Regions from separate parts of the Homo sapiens genome. Here regions 1 and 2 are each linked to region 3. Evidence: fine-mapped expression QTL. A gene starts in region 3. Each other region holds a variant in brackets. All regions are shown on one strand. Distances are between the middles of the regions. Region 1 has its middle 23 kb from the start of TP53TG1. Region 2 overlaps CROT (carnitine O-octanoyltransferase). Region 3 holds the start of CROT (carnitine O-octanoyltransferase).

Region 1 (5,232 bases), 24 kb before region 3:
TCCCTGGGATGAAAGGCTGGTTCAACATACACAAATCAATAAACGTAATCCATCACATAAACAGAACCAATGACAAAAACCACATGATTATCTCAATAGATGCAGAAAAGGCCTTCAATAAAATTCAACACCCCTTCACACTAAAAACTCTCAATAAACTAGGTATTGAGGGAACGTATCTCAAAATAGAAGAGCTATTTATGACAAACCCACAGCCAACATCATACTGAATGGGCAAAAGCTGGAAGCATTCCCTTTGAAAACCGCCACAAGATAAGGATGCCCTCTCTCACAACTGATATTCAATATAGTATTGAAAGTTCTGGCCAGGGCAATCAGGCAAGAGAAAGAAATAAAGGGTATTCAAATAGGAAAAGAGGAAGTCAAATTTTCTCTGTTTGCAGATGACATGATTGTATATTTACAAAACCCCATCGTCTCAGTCAAAAATCTCCTTAAGCTGATAAACAACTTCAGCAAAGTCTCAGGATACAAAATCAAAGTGCAAAAATCACAAGCATTCCTATACACAAATAATAGACCAACAGAGAGCCAAATCATGAGTGAACTCCCATTCACAATTGCTACAAAGAAAATAAAATAGCTAGGAATACAACTTTCAAGGGATGTGAAGGACCTATTCAAGCAGAACTACAAACCAGTGTTCAAGGAAATAAAAGAGGACACAAACAAATAGAAAAACATTCCATGCTCATGGATAGGAAGAATCAATATTGTGAAAATGGCCATACTGCCCAAAGCAATTTATAGATTCAGTGCTATATCCCCATCAAGCTACCTTGACTTTCTTCACAGAATTACAAAAAACTACTTTAAATTTCATATGGAACTGAAAAAGGGCCCACAGAGCCAAGACAATCCTAAGCAAAAAGAACAAAGCTGGAGGCATCATGCTACCTGACTGCAAACTATACTACAAGGCTACAGTAACCAACACAGCATGGTACTGGTACCAAAACAAATATATATATCAATAGAACAGAACAGAGGCCTCAGAAATAACACCACACATCTTCAACCATCTGATCTTTGACAAACTTGACAAAAACAAGCAATGGGGAAAGGATTCCCTATTTAATAAATTGTGCTGGGAAAACTGGCTAGTCATATTCAGAAAATTGAAACTGGACCTTTTCCTTACACCTTACATACAAATTAACTCAAGATGGATTAAAGAATTAAATATAAGACCTAAAACCATAAAAAACCCTAGGAGAAAACCTAGGCAATACCATTCAGGACATAGGCAGGGACAAAGACTTCATGACTAAAACACTAAAAGCAATGGCAACAAAAGCTAAAATTTACAAAAGAGATCTAATTAAACTAAAGAGCTTCTGCACAGCAAAAGAAGCTATCACCAGAGTGAATAGGCAACCTACAGAATGGAAGAAAATGTTTGCAATCTATTTATCTGACAAAGGGCTAATATCCAGAATCTACAAAGAACTTAAACAAATTTACAAGAAAAAAAAACCATCAAAAAATGGGTGAAGGATATGAACAGACGCTTCTCAAAATAAGACTTTTATGCAGCCAACAAACATATAAAAAGAAGCTCATCATCACTGGTCATTAGAGAAATGTAAATCAAAACCACAATGAGATATCATCTCACTCCAGTTAGAATGGCAATCATTAAAAAGTCAGGAAACAACAGATGCTGGAGAGGATATAGAGAAATAGGAATGCATTTACACTGTTGGTGGGAGTGTAAATTAGTTAATCCATTGTGGAAGACAGTGTGGCAATTCCTCAAGGATGTAGAACCAGAAATACCATTTGACCCAGCAATCCCATTACTGGGTTTATACGCAAAGGATTATAAATCATTCTACTCTAAAGACATATGCACATGTATGTTTATTGCAGCACTGTTTATAACAGCAAAGACTTGGAACCAACCCAAATGCCCATCAATGATAGACCGGATAAAGAAAATGTGGCACATATATACCATGGAATACTATGCAGCCATAAAAACAGATGAGTTCATGTCCTTTGCAGGGACATGGATGAAGTTGGAAACCATCATTCTCAGCAAACTAACACAGGAACAGAAAACCAAACACCTCATGTTCTCACTCATAAGTGGTTGTTGAACAATGAGAACACATGGATACAGGGAGGGGAACATCACACACTGGGGCCTGTTGGGGGATGGGGGGCTAGGGCAGGGATAGCATTAGGAGAAATACCTAATGTAGATGATGGGTTGATGGGTACAGCAAACCACCATGGCATGTGTATATCTATGTAACAAACCTGCACGTCCTGCACATGTACCCCAGAACTTAATGTATAATTTAAAAAAAGACGAGATGGGTAGATCACGAGGTCAGGAGATCAAGACCATCCTGGCTAACACAGTGAAACCCTCTCTCTACTGAAAAATACAAAAAATTAGCTGGGCATGGTGGCAGGCACCTGCAGTCCCAGCTACTCGGGAGTCTGAGGCAGGATAATGGCGTGAACCAAGGAGGTGGAGCTTGCAGTGATCCGAGATTGCACCACTGCACTCCAGCCTGGGCGGCAGAGTGAGACTCTGTCTCAAAATAAAAAAAAAGAAAAAAATTACCCAATCTGTTGATAGCTTTAAC[T/G]TATAAAATGTCTTATTATTGAAAACATGGAGAATATGAAAATGTAGAAAGAAAGAAATCACACATGGTTTTACCACTCAGTAATCATCATTGTTAATATTCTGAAGTATGTTTTTTGAGGTGTTTTTTCATAAAGTGGTTTAATGGGGATACTTAAAAGTTGCTAGGTGGGGGTTCTCTGTGCATTTTCCCTTCAGTGGCATTTAAGAAAAGTGCTGCTGGCATTCCATCCACTCATTTTCATCTCTTCCATATCCTTCTTTCTTACTGCTTCTCTTGAAAAATTGCATTCTTTTCTTTATTTTTTTTTCTTTTTGCCTTTAAGGGATGTTACAGTCTTGCCAGTGCACCACAATGTAGCAATCTCTCATTTTGAGGTATCACCCAGAGCTCTTTGTCTCAGGACTAAGAAAATTAAGAAGCATGGACACAAAGGGTGAGGTTGGAGCAAAAGTTTAATAAAGTTTAATAAGCAAAGAAGAAAGCTCTCCACCACTGAGAAGGGGCCTGGAAGAGAGTTGCCATTTTTACAGTTGAATGCAAAAGCTTTTATAAAAGAGGATAGCTGGGCATTTCATCTGCATAAAGCATGAATTTCTGCTAGCTCCACCCTGTCCTCCTAGTGTACATGTGGGCCCTTAGCTTGAGGTACTCCAAATTGCTTTGTTCCCCAAAGTATGTGTGAGGGGGGCAGAACTTTGCTGAGCATGTCTGGACAAGTCACCTGTGAAGCCTTTCTTATCTGTGTGGCTGTGGCCATGTCTTAGGCAAGCCGCCCTGTGCAAGTTCCCTTATATGTGCCTTCAGGCTGTTCTTTTGTTTGAAAGAATTCAACCAATGACCCACTTTAACTGCCTCCCTGACCTCTTTCTTCCTTTCTCCTGTCTTATTTCCCTCCTCAAGGGTGGAGACCCTAACTGGTCTTAGGGGGAATGGGGTGATGATTCTTCTAGCTACTTCCTACTGGAAAGGGGCACTGCATGGGGAACAGCAGCTAGGGTTTCTCCTGGGGCTGGTCTAAGGATTCCTGGAAGAAAGGCATATCCATGTATTGTTTCATTTGCATTACCATTTGGAGTTTGATAGTCTTTAGGCAAGAAGAAACAATTTGGGTTATTAGAGGAAACAAGCAGGGGATAAGCACAGCTTAAAAATCCCAAGGCTGCTGACATGTACAGATAACTGGTGGCCACAGTTATGCCCACTAAGATTTGAGTGCAAGGGGCTTGGCTTTGGTTAACTTCCTTGGTTTTATTTTCCCAAAGAAACCTCTGGGTTATGGGTACCCTATTTACTCCCATCACCTGACAGGATTTGTAGGATAATTGCCAAGAACTAGAATATTCAGATTTGTACATCACCCATCCCTTTTTGCACTTTCTGAGCTGCAGCCAGAGATTGCTGGTTGGCTTATAGGAATAAGCAGGATTAGTTTAAAATGTAGGCAAAAACTTAAAAACAATCAATGAGATTAGAATTAATGACAAGCATATGATATGTTTTGAAACATAATTTTTCTGTCTCTACTCATTTTTGTTAAAAAAACAAATCATGATAGGACTGAGTTGTTTGCAAAATCAACTTTAGTTTTATACTTGGCCTGATTATTTGTACAAAGCACAGCAAGAATAATTATTTTTACATAGGTTTTTATATTATCTTTGATGAAACTGTTCCACAGGAATCTCAGAACTTTTTAAAGCTGAGCCCAGCCATGGGTTTGTACCCTCAAATACCTATGAGTTGGGTGAATTCCTCTCTCCTTGAGGTCCTAAGAACATGGTGTTCCTGGGCCTGTAGAAAGTGATATTCTTTACTCACCACAGGTTAGGAACCCTGTTCGGGGGCTGTGTAGACAAAGTATGAGGCAGTTTTCCCAAGGGGCTTTTATTGGCTCTGCAAGTCAAGCTCGATTCCTTAAAGGGAAGCACAGCCTTTAGTCAAAACCTTGAGAAAACAACCAGTTTCTCCAATTGTGTCCTCTTGTAAAAGAAAATGATTCTCATTGTGCTGATGCAAATAATTATATTGCCATGAGTTAAGAATACTCACAAATACTTTCCAAGTTCTAGAGGAACCAGAGAGAAACAAATAAATATGCTCTGAATTTTATTTACAGAAGTATACCTTACATAATTATTAGAGGCTATAAATAGCTTAAAATAAGTTTCCTTGACTCTGAAAAACAAAATAAGGATCAGCAACATTTTAAGCAAAAAGGTTAAAAAGTCCATTTTGTTAACTCTTGTTTTGCTTGATATTCATGAATATTTTAGCTCTTCATGAGTCCTGTACATTTTTCCTTTATTCCAATGTCATAATCTCCAAAGTTATCAGAAACTTGCATTTGAGAGCATGTGTCAAAGTCCTATAGCTGATTATAAACCATCCTTTAAAGAGGATTAAAACAAGACGATTTTGAATGGTGAAATGTCCAAGGTAGTTAGTCAAGAACATGACTGACAAATTTTATTATTTCTGTGTTTTACAATAACTTAACATAATAACCTTAATTATGATTTCTAGCATATACTCAGACATTAGAATTTTAGAAATCCCATACAATTTTGGAAAATATATTAATATTATTCACTAAAATATAACCTGAAGA
Region 2 (5,232 bases), 23 kb after region 3:
AGGTTATATCACCACTACATTGTTGCAGTGACTTTCCTCCTGCCCATTCCCCTTCATCTATTGATTGCTTTAGCTCCAGTGCCTGTCTTTCTTTCCATTACTACCTCAGTCATATTCTTGATGATTTTAGCTTTCAATTGTAGACGATCCATAGGCTCTCATTTCCTTCAGTTTATAGCTCTAGGAAACTACATCTTTCAGTACTCCAACTCAGCTGTTCCTTTGGCCACATTGTGATTTACAGTTTAATGATGCTACTGCTCTCTTCATGGCTCCATTCCTACTTCCCCGTCTTCACTTCTTTCTGGTTCTTCACCATCATTACTCCCAGGCATACACATTCAAATCTTTGCTACCTCTCCCCAGTACTGATGTGGTAAAACCTAAACATCGTTTAAAATTTAATTTGTCTTTTCTCTACATATCAAAGATACCTACTCTAGCAATTTACTTGGCCAGAGAAAACCATAAAACTTACTTAATGATCTCAGTTAAATCTCAAGTTGGCCCCCAGCACTACGGTGCTATCTTCCTTGGTTAGCTTATTCTTTCACTTCCAGAGAAGACTGTTTTATGCCTTTCGCTCTCCTTCTTGTTAGCTAACAAACTCTTGTTTTTCACAACAGATATGAGCAATCTTCCCATCATGACATTTACCAGCCTTTCAGTGATGGGCAGAATAATGGTCCCCCATAGATGTCTACTTTCTAATCCCTGAAATTGTTAATATGTTAGGTTACATGGTAAAGAGGAATTAAGGTTGCTAGTCAGTTGACCTTGAAATGGGGACGTTATCCTAGATTATTCACATGTGCCCAAAGTATATAATCACAAGGGTCCTTATTCATGGAAGAGGGAGGCAAAGGAGAGAACCAAAGAGATGGAAGTATGAGAAGGTTATGATCTTCCCTTGATGGCTTTGAAGATGGAAGAAGGGGTTCATGAGCCCAAGGAATGTGGATAGCCTCTAAAAGCTGGAAAAAGGAAGGAAACCAATTTTCTTCTAGAGCCTCTAGAAGGAACACAGCCCTGATGGCACCTTCATTTTAGCCCAGTAAGACACATTTCAGATTTCTGGTCCTTAGACCTGTAAGATAATAAATTTGTGTTGTTTTAAGCTACCAAGTCAGTAGTAATTTGTTTTTGCAACCAGTGAAAATATACTGATTCAAATATTTGCCCATTCTCTACCCCCTTGCAATATGTTACTGCAAATTCATATACTTTTCTTTTCTTTTTAAAATACAGATGAACTCCTCTGACTCCTAAGGACAACTCTTCTATATCTGTGCTGAGTCCCGCTTCCTCTTGCTTAGTCAAGAAACTTGCTTTTGCATTATCCTCTCTCTCTGCTGCTTATCAGTTTTTTTCTTTACTTGATTGTTCCAGTCTGTAATATCTTCCATCTTAAAAGGAAAACAATTCACCTCATGTCTCCTTCAAGTATCAGGCCCCAGTCGAAGCCATCATCCTATCTCTCTTAGATTGTTCTCACCTGGACAACTTTAGTCACCTCCTAACTTGGCATACCTTCTCTTCACCCTTGTAATCTGTTCTCCATGTAACAGCTGGAGGGATCTTTTTAGTGAGACCACATTATCACTCCCTTGCTTAAAACCATCCATTGGTTTCCTTCCCATCATACTGGAAACCACTTTCTGAGGCCAGTATAATCGGGTCTCAACCTTATCTACCACTCTATCCTTTTCTCTGTGCCGCAGCTGCACTGACCTTGTTTTCCTTTAAGCAGATCAACTCATGTTTATTCTAATGCCTTTGTGCTTGCTGTTTCCTCTGCCTGAAACACTTCTGCGGGTATTTACATGGCGTACTTTCTCACTCCATTCAGTTTTCTGCTCAAATATCCGCCAGGTTTATTGTGAGGTAGCACCCTTCTGCCACCCTCACCCTTTCCAACCATTTATTGATTAATTTGGCATCAGGTTTATTTTCTTTTTTCTTTTCCAGCCCTAAACTTTGAAAGGGGTGTGGTCAGGAGATGACAGCAATAAAAGAGTGGTGGTCGTAGAGGTAAAAGGATCTGGAGGTTTTTGAAGGGGAAGAAAGAAGAAATGGTTTGGAGGTAGCCATGAGGAACAAGGAAAACACATATCTCATCCCCTAGGTCTTGAGGAAATAAGGTATAAGAGAAAAAAGAGTATTTTTATCAGGAGACTGTTCTTCCTCATAGTTGATGAAAAGATTTCATAAGATAATGTATGTAAAGCACTTAATACTGACCCGTAAATAATACCCACCACTATATTTCCTTCAAGCGGCAGTGTATGTCTTCTCTTTCTTCCTCTTTTTCCATTTTCTTTTCTTAGAAGGTAGGGGCAGGGATCACATAAGAAGATCCTTGGCAAAAGGACAAGTACCTAAAGATGGGGTTATATCAGAATAGTCTGAGGTTTACAGCAAACAAACAGTTCTTGGGGAGTTAAGGTGTGCCAAAGAAATCAGAGATAATCCATTGTCAGTGGCTTACCAGGTGTTACCAGACTGGACAAAATTCTTTTCCTTTGCCACTGGCATACTGTATCCTTTTCTACTGAAAATTATTTTATTGAGTTATCATAGCTAGATATTACTGCAATTAAATTATCTGATGAGTAATTAACATTAAAATAATCCAAAAGAGAAACCTGTTAATTCAAATGGCTGTCCTCCAAGATTCCACTGGTCTCCTTCTCCCCTTCCCATTTCTGTTCCTAAGTAAAATTAGAAAGGTCTGTAGTAGTTTGGGATTTATGTGGTTTTCAGGGTATTTGAAACTCATTGATTTCTAGATGTCTCACATGGAACAAGTGTCAGGAGTATGTATTTATATCATAGTAACTGCAATTCCATTAATACATTATTTTTGTTATGTGATATATTTGATGACTATATGATAAATAAAATACTGGAAGAATGCCTACTTTTCTTCTATTGGATATATGCATCTTTACTCCTGTTTAACCTTAGATTTGAGTCTTGTGTTTTCTGTTTCTGTTTCCAGAGAGTGAAGGGCGTTCCCCAAACCACATTGTAGTGCTGTGTCGAGGCCGAGCTTTTGTCTTTGATGTAATACATGAAGGATGTTTGGTCACCCCGCCAGAGCTTCTCAGGTTTTCAGACTACTTTCTTGAGTTTCATTAGGTCTTATGGT[G/A]TTGCTTGAATTAAAATATACATGTTTAGAATTGCCTTTCAAGGTGATAGTAAGCTGAAAAATAAGAATTTTATGCATGCTTTTTTAAAAAAAAATCTATTTGTATTTTTTATTTAAATTATTTTTAAATTTTACTAGACATATATAAATATGTTCACTTGGAGAAAAGGAAAACATTACATATATTACCAATTCCATTCCCTGCCCCAGAATTAATCACTCTTACTAGTTTAGTGTGTTCCATTGTTCCATACCTGTTGCAATGAATTTACATGTATACCTAGCTTAAAAAATATATATAATATATAATATGTATTATATATGTATATACATATATATGGTATACATCTTCTATGTATATGTTTTAAAGTATATTACAGAAAATTTCAAAATGTATAGGGGATTATATAATGATAACTCCCGTGTACCCATCTCCTAACTTCAACAGTTACCAACTCCTAGCATCAACAGTTATAAACTCATAGTCAATGCTGTTTCAACTATACCTCTTTTACCTTTTCCCTCACTTTCCCATGGATTATTTTGAAGATAATCTGACATAATATCCTTTCACTATAGATATTTCAGTATACATCTCTAAAATAGAAGGACTCTTAAAATACACATTTAGTACCATTATCATACCTAATGACTTCTAAAAAATAATTTTTTTTTTGAGACAGAGTCTTGCTTTGTGTCCAGGCTGGAGTGCAGAGGCACAATCTCGGCTCACTGCACCCTCCACATTCCAGGTTCAAGTGATTCTTCTGCCTCAGCCTCCCAAGTAGCTAGGATTATAGGTGCGCACCACCATGGCCAGCTAATTATTGTATTTTTAGTAGGGATGAGGTTTTGCCGTGTTGGCCAAGCTGGTCTTGAACTCCTGGCCTTAAATAATCCGCCTGCCTTGGCCTCCCAAAGTGCTGGGATTACAGGCATGAGCCACCACACCCAGCCAAATAAACAGTGTTTTAATATCATTAACAGAGAATCAGTTGTTCTAATTGTTTTCTAATTGTTGGGTATATATATCTATTTATAACTTAAATTAGTTTTATTAAATATTGCAAACATGTACAAAACTGCACACAGAAATGTACAACTAAATATTCATGTAACCTGCACCCAGGTCAAAAATTAGAACATTTCTAATACTCCAAAGATTCCCGTCATCCCTCTTCCAGACTTTCACTCCTTCCCAGGGGCAGTCATTTAGGTTGTTTACAGTTTGCATTATTATTTGAAAAAGGCTGCTGTGAAAATCCTTGTGTAAGTCTTTTGGTGTACACATGCATGTATTTCTGTCTGGAGCACACCCAGGAGAGAATTTGCTGAGTCATAGGATATGTGTATGTTCAGCTTCAATAGATAATGCCAGTTTTCCAAAGTAGTTATGTCTACTAGTGTGTGAATGTTGTAGGAGTTCCTTACATTCTGGGTAAGAGTTCTTACTTGGTTGTGTGTGTTGCAATACACAGAGTAGAAGATGTTTATAATTGATCTTTTGTTCTATTAAACACATCTTCCTGATGAACAGAAGTTCTTAATTGAATGAACTCCAGTTTATTAATCTTTTAATCTTTACCATACAGATTATACATTTTGTGTTCTGTTTTAAAAAATTTTTCCCTAACTCAGTGCCAAGAAGATAATTTCCTATGTTCTAGAATTTTGTGTTGACTTTTACGTTTGTATTTATAGTCTTCCTAGAGTTAATTGATTTTTTTGTTTGACATGAGGCATGGGGTAGTTGCACATTTAAAAAATAGTGTTATTTTTATAGTTAGCTTCTTTTAATCAACAATAAATGTAATCTTTCCATATTGGTACAAATACATCTACCTTATTCTTTTAAACTATTACATAGAATTCCATCAAATGGATATATTATAGTTGATGTGACCATTTCTTTATGATATGACATTAAAGTTGTTTCCATTTGTTGCTATAACAAATAATTAACATTTTCAAACATGCCCCTTTTTGTATTTGGATAAAATATCTATGGTTTGATATTAGAAGTGAAATGTTCACATCATCTGATGTATACATTTAAAATTTTTGACTGAGTCAAATTGTCA
Region 3 (5,232 bases):
TGTTGGCTGCTTCCCAAAATGACCATATTTCTACTGCCCCCCCATTAAAAAGAAGAAACATCACAAAATTATTTCTTCAACATGTTCATTTTATACATCAGAATGAAAGGAGGTTACAGGTCTCCCATAGATTAGGGCTATTTACCATATCTCCTTACTTATTAGAGTCACAAATCTTAGCAGGAAGCCAGTTATGCAGATTGAAACATGAACTTCTTAGTCTAGCATTTTAATACTTTTTAATGGTGAAATTTATCTAGACTTATCTATAAAGTCTTTTGCAATTTGTGGTATGCTGAGTAAGAACTACAGAAGAACAAAAATAAAAGATTTTTTTAATGGCAACTTAAAAAATTATCACCACTTGTACTACTTACAAATTTTCCTCCAAAAAGTTACTTTGACTCATAGTCAATTTTTAATCTTGGAACAACTTCTTGCTATCACAAATACTTCAAGTGCCTAAAACATCTTCCTTACCAGCCAATATCTCCCGCTCCACTCTAAGAAATGCAAACTCGTTCAAGTTTAACCTGAATGCAACATAATTTGGAATCTTTCATTAAAATATATATCACACATTTTGAAGCCAAACATATTTTAAAATACCTGTTTTTGGTGATTTGGGGTACATATGCTTATCAGTATAACATATTTTAAAAGATTTTTTTCTACATACTCAAATCTGTGTTCCATTCATTTTTTCACTCCCACACCTTTTTGTCTATCCGATAATTCAGGAATCTTTACAGAAACATCTTGTTTCCATTGAAATAAACAACAAGAGTAGGAAAAAGAGTGAAGCGAAATGGTTCTAAATTCTATGCACCAACAGGCATTAAACATGCATAAACTTTTAAAGAGATGCCAAGACTCACTAAAAAGGAGAAAAAAAATACAACGAAGGTTTCTGAGTAGTTTTTAGTTACTCAATTTAAAAACTTTATCTTGTAAGCAAACTTTAACATCATCCAGAGCATCGCACTTATATATGAAAGAAAAAGTTCTTTATCACACCTTCAGAAATTACAACTACAAATTCCTAATCCCTTATTTAAAATCTTTTTGGCTAGATATGTTTCAAAATTCAGAACTTTTCTTAGAATAGTACGTCTGCCATATATTATGAAACACTTCCAGCAAGCTGTACTGTAATCAAACACAATATTTCTGTAGAAAACTTATGAATATTTACACAAAGGGAACATTCAGTTACACATAGCCTCACTTCCCTTCAGGTCAAACTTTACTGCTAAAGGAGTTAGAAACGACAGACAAAGGAATGGGGCCTGTCATGACATGTTAATTTGAAATCTAAATCTTTATCTTTGATAACTAGTTCAGAGTCAGTGTAAACATTTGGTCTTTCCTTCCACAAAAAAATGAAACAGTGTATTTAAAATTAAAAATGAAACAGTATATTTTATTTCAGAAGGTAAAAGCAAAATGAATTAATCTGTGAAACTAAGTCAATCACATTATGATCTTCTAGAACTTGGGTAGCTCCACTCTGGTTAAAGATTCCATTTCTTGGCACAACAGTAAAAGACATCAGATAGGCCCGGGGGTAAGCATCCCTGGGGTATTCAAATAACTTGGGTAGCAATGAAGAGCTGCAGAAGAGCAAGGAGACCCGAGATGATGTAGTGTGCTGCGGCATACCTGAGTTGGGCAAACTCAGCCTCCGAAGATTAAAGGAAAGAGCCCAAGTAGGAATCTGTGTGATCACTGTTCTTTTGCCAAGACACGGGGTGGACAATAAGATTCCTTTACAAAGCACTGGTGTAAGTGTTCGCCTGGTGCTGCAAAAAGCGGCTCACTGGGAATGGGGAGGAGCGTGTGGTAAGCCAGACCTGCGGCGAGAAGTTGGGTGAAAATGGGTCTTAACCATCGCTTCCTGCATCTATCCCAGAGGGTTGGGTACCTTCGTGGGCGGAGCGCGGCCTGCCCAGAGTGCCTTCTAGATCCTGGGTCAGGCGCCAAGCTCCCCAGCATCATGCAGGAAGCTGCAGCCCCGCAGAGTTAGGACAGCTCATTTGGCACCCGGCGAGCCCTTCCCAGGCCCGCAGCCCAGAATAGAGCCGGGGCCCAAGACGCCCACTGGAGACAGGGTCGGGTCCCACTACCGCGCAGGCCCGGCTCGCCCCCGACGTCAGGCACGGGGCGGGACCCTTGCAGCTGTCCGTCCAGTCCCGTTCCCCGGAAAGTGAGGGGCGGGACCCTCGCGGCTTTCTATCCAATCCTGTTCCCCGGCGAATGCGGGGCGGGACCCTAGCGGCCTTCAGTCCAATTCCCGCACCTTTGAGGCCCAAGGGGGAGCGAGCCGGTGCTGCTGCAGGCTGAGGCTGCGGCAGAGGCGGCGAGGCGCGGGCGGTGAGGACGGACAGGTCCGTTGAAGCAGCATTCCCTCCCTCCCCTAATCCTTCAACTCGGGGGCGGGGGAAAGTTAAGTCGTGCAGAACCGCAAAGGTGCCTGGATTTGGTGGGGGAGTAGTGTCATCAAGCATCTCGCCTGCTGGGGTCTCAGGGGTACCCTCAAGGTTGGGCCGCGGGGCTGCTCCGTTGTAGTGCTTAGATTTCTCTCACTTGATGGCCTCTTGAGTGCAGAGTTGCTCTTGGGTTGGTGGGAAGAGCCTCCGAGCTCTCATTGCCCTCTGCTCCTGCTTCTACCCCTTGCCACTCTGCGACGAACCTGTTACCCAGCCACTGAAAACGTATCCTCTACCCTTTGAACCCGTCTAATGGAAGGTGTACTTGTCTGAAACCTACTTAATTGTATGATCATTTACTCCTGCTCTCTAGCAGGTGGACTATTTGCGTGTGTTTGCAGTGATTCACGAAAAGTTTGTCTTGGGAACTCCCAACTCCTAGTTTGTCTGCATTCCACCTTCTTTCACTAGCTTGTTCATTTCTTTTTCCCTCTTAAATATTTGTTAAGCTTGTTTCTTTCTTCCCACAGTCACCGACTTAGTCCAGTTCCCTGTGATCTCAAAACAATTGTTGCAGCAGGCTCCTGGCAGTCTCAAGCAGTTCATCTTCTTGGTGTACTGGTATGTGACAATTCCTTCACGTATTGTTCGTGGTTCTTTTCCACTTTCTGTGAATTCATATCTAATTGCCCCCAGAAAGTCAATTCTAATTAAATCTAGCATAATCATTTTCTTAGTGCTATTGGAACCATCTTATTTAACTTAATCTTTGTGGTTGAGAATTCAAGAAAACTCTTCAAGAAAGAATCCAATAATTTATATTTTTAATGTGTACCGGTTGGTGGGTTAAGCACTATAGTGGGTATGTAACTAATACTCTTGCTTCCAGTTTTCTAGAGTCTATTAAGTGGCACAGAGGTAAACAGAATAGCTTATCTTCTCTGTATGTGTGTACTAGTCTTCTATTGCTGCCTTAACCAATTACACAAATGCAACAATTAAAACAACACAAATGTATTATCTCATAGCTTCTGTAAATGTGAAGTTTGGGTGGGCTTAGCTGAGTACTTGGCTTAGAATTTCACAAAACCGAAACCAAGGTTTCTGTAGATTTGGATTCTTTTCTGGAGGCTCTAGGGGAGAATCCACCTCCAGGCTATTTCAGATTGTTGGTAGAATTCACACTGACATTTCTATATCCTTACTGTTTGTCAGCCTGAGCCTCTTTCAGTTCTTTAAGGCCATCTGCATCTTCAAAGACACCACAAATCCTTCTCAAGCATTAAAGCAGTCTTACTTGTCTGCCACTGGCCAGAGAAAGCTCTTTGCTCTTATGGACTCAAGTGATTAGATTAGTTCCAATTCGATAATATCCCTATTTTAAGGTCAGTTCTGTAGAGAATATCACAATCACAGGAGTAATGATCTCACCATATTCGCAGGTTCTGGGGATTAGCAGGGGTGGAATCTTGGGGGCCATTCATAGTAATTGTGCCTACCACAATATGGTGGTTTCAGGCAGGATTATTTTGTTTTTATAATGTGCTTTCACAGGCATTGAAAACAAATTCTGACTTTATTGAATTGTATGATTAACCACTCTAAGATAAGGAAATTCACTTAAAGTTGGTTGCCCTAGGGGCACATGGCTAGAAAGTGGCAGAGTCTGTACTTGGATCCAGATCTACATTTCCATTAGGTACAAACCCATTTTTATGGATGGTCAAAATGGTGTGCAGCCAAAGTCAATAGATAGAAAGAAGCTAAAGAACTTTGAGTTAATTATTATTTCTCATTTTCAAATTATCTCTTTATATTAGTGGTACAGGCTAAGCTCTTCTCCCTACAATAGAAAGCCCAAAATACAATGGTATGAATAAAATAGAAGTTTTTTTTTTTCCATACATCTAGAGGTAGGAGTCCAGGACTAGTAGGGAGATTCTGCAATCCTGCATATATGACTTCCATAAATGAGGCCATGGTGCTGTTTAGTTCGTCACTACCTAGCAGGTAGTAAAAAGGAGGGAAAGTGCAGGGAGAACACATGCATTCCTTTTTGGGAGCATGACCTGGAAGTGACACACACAAGGTCATCACAAAGCCACACTGAGCTCCAAGAGAGGGTAGGAAAGATAAAACTGGGGGCTGTATGCACAGCTACAACTCAGGATTCTGTTAAAGCAGAGGAAAACAGGTATTAGCTGAAAATAGTCTCTTCTGTGTCCATGTTTTTGATAGTGTTCGATTCTGTAACCTATGAGTGGAATACTTTGTTTAGCGTTGCTATCAGTTTTAAAAAATAGTTTTTGAGAGAATAGGAAGTTCAAATTCAATATTAACGTTCTTTGATTTCTCAGTTGCTATTTTAACATATAATTACATTTAATATATTACATTATTTAATATAATTAATATATGATAATTTACAAAGGCTTTGAGAAACCTCATTTTTTATTTAGCATTTGTATACCTTATTCACATTTTGAGTTAGATTTCTTTGATAGCAATTAATACACGTGTCAATATGTTCAAGATTGCTTTGGAACACTTGAGACCATTCTGTGTAGACCTCATACGACCTGTGCAATTAAAGCAGCTTGTCATATGATTTATGTATTCTATAATAATCTTTAATTCTACAGTTGGACACTTCCACACCTCTTTGTACTTTGTGCTCCAAAGTTTTCTATATCAATGCAATATCAACACATAATCCTTTTCTATACATCAAATACTATCTACCCACTAAGATTTACTGCAGGTTCCCTTACCTTCTATCATGTTGTTTTGTATAGGGGAAAGA

The links.
Region 1: its variant is fine-mapped to the expression of CROT in whole blood (TOPMed, PIP above 0.99).
Region 2: its variant is fine-mapped to the expression of CROT in whole blood (TOPMed, PIP above 0.99). The same link has a PIP of 0.9 or more in blood mononuclear cells.

The regions. Positions count from the first base shown.
Region 1 is chr7:87,319,872-87,325,103 of GRCh38, forward strand. No RefSeq gene overlaps it. Among named protein-coding and RNA genes, the nearest start is that of TP53TG1, 23 kb to the right of the region's middle. The variant T/G (reference allele first, on the strand shown) is at 2,622.
Region 2 is chr7:87,366,375-87,371,606 of GRCh38, forward strand. It overlaps CROT (carnitine O-octanoyltransferase), which reads left to right. Exons shown (of 18, transcript NM_021151.4): 7 at 3,002-3,110. It also overlaps a transcript of ABCB4 not described here. Among named protein-coding and RNA genes, the nearest start is that of CROT, 23 kb to the left of the region's middle. The variant G/A (reference allele first, on the strand shown) is at 3,152.
Region 3 is chr7:87,343,381-87,348,612 of GRCh38, forward strand. It overlaps CROT (carnitine O-octanoyltransferase), which reads left to right and starts at 2,284. Exons shown (of 18, transcript NM_021151.4): 1 at 2,284-2,387; 2 at 2,960-3,050. It overlaps TP53TG1 (TP53 target 1), which reads right to left and starts at 2,112. Exons shown (of 3, transcript NR_015381.1): 1 at 1,663-2,112. RefSeq lists a silencer at 2,100-2,309.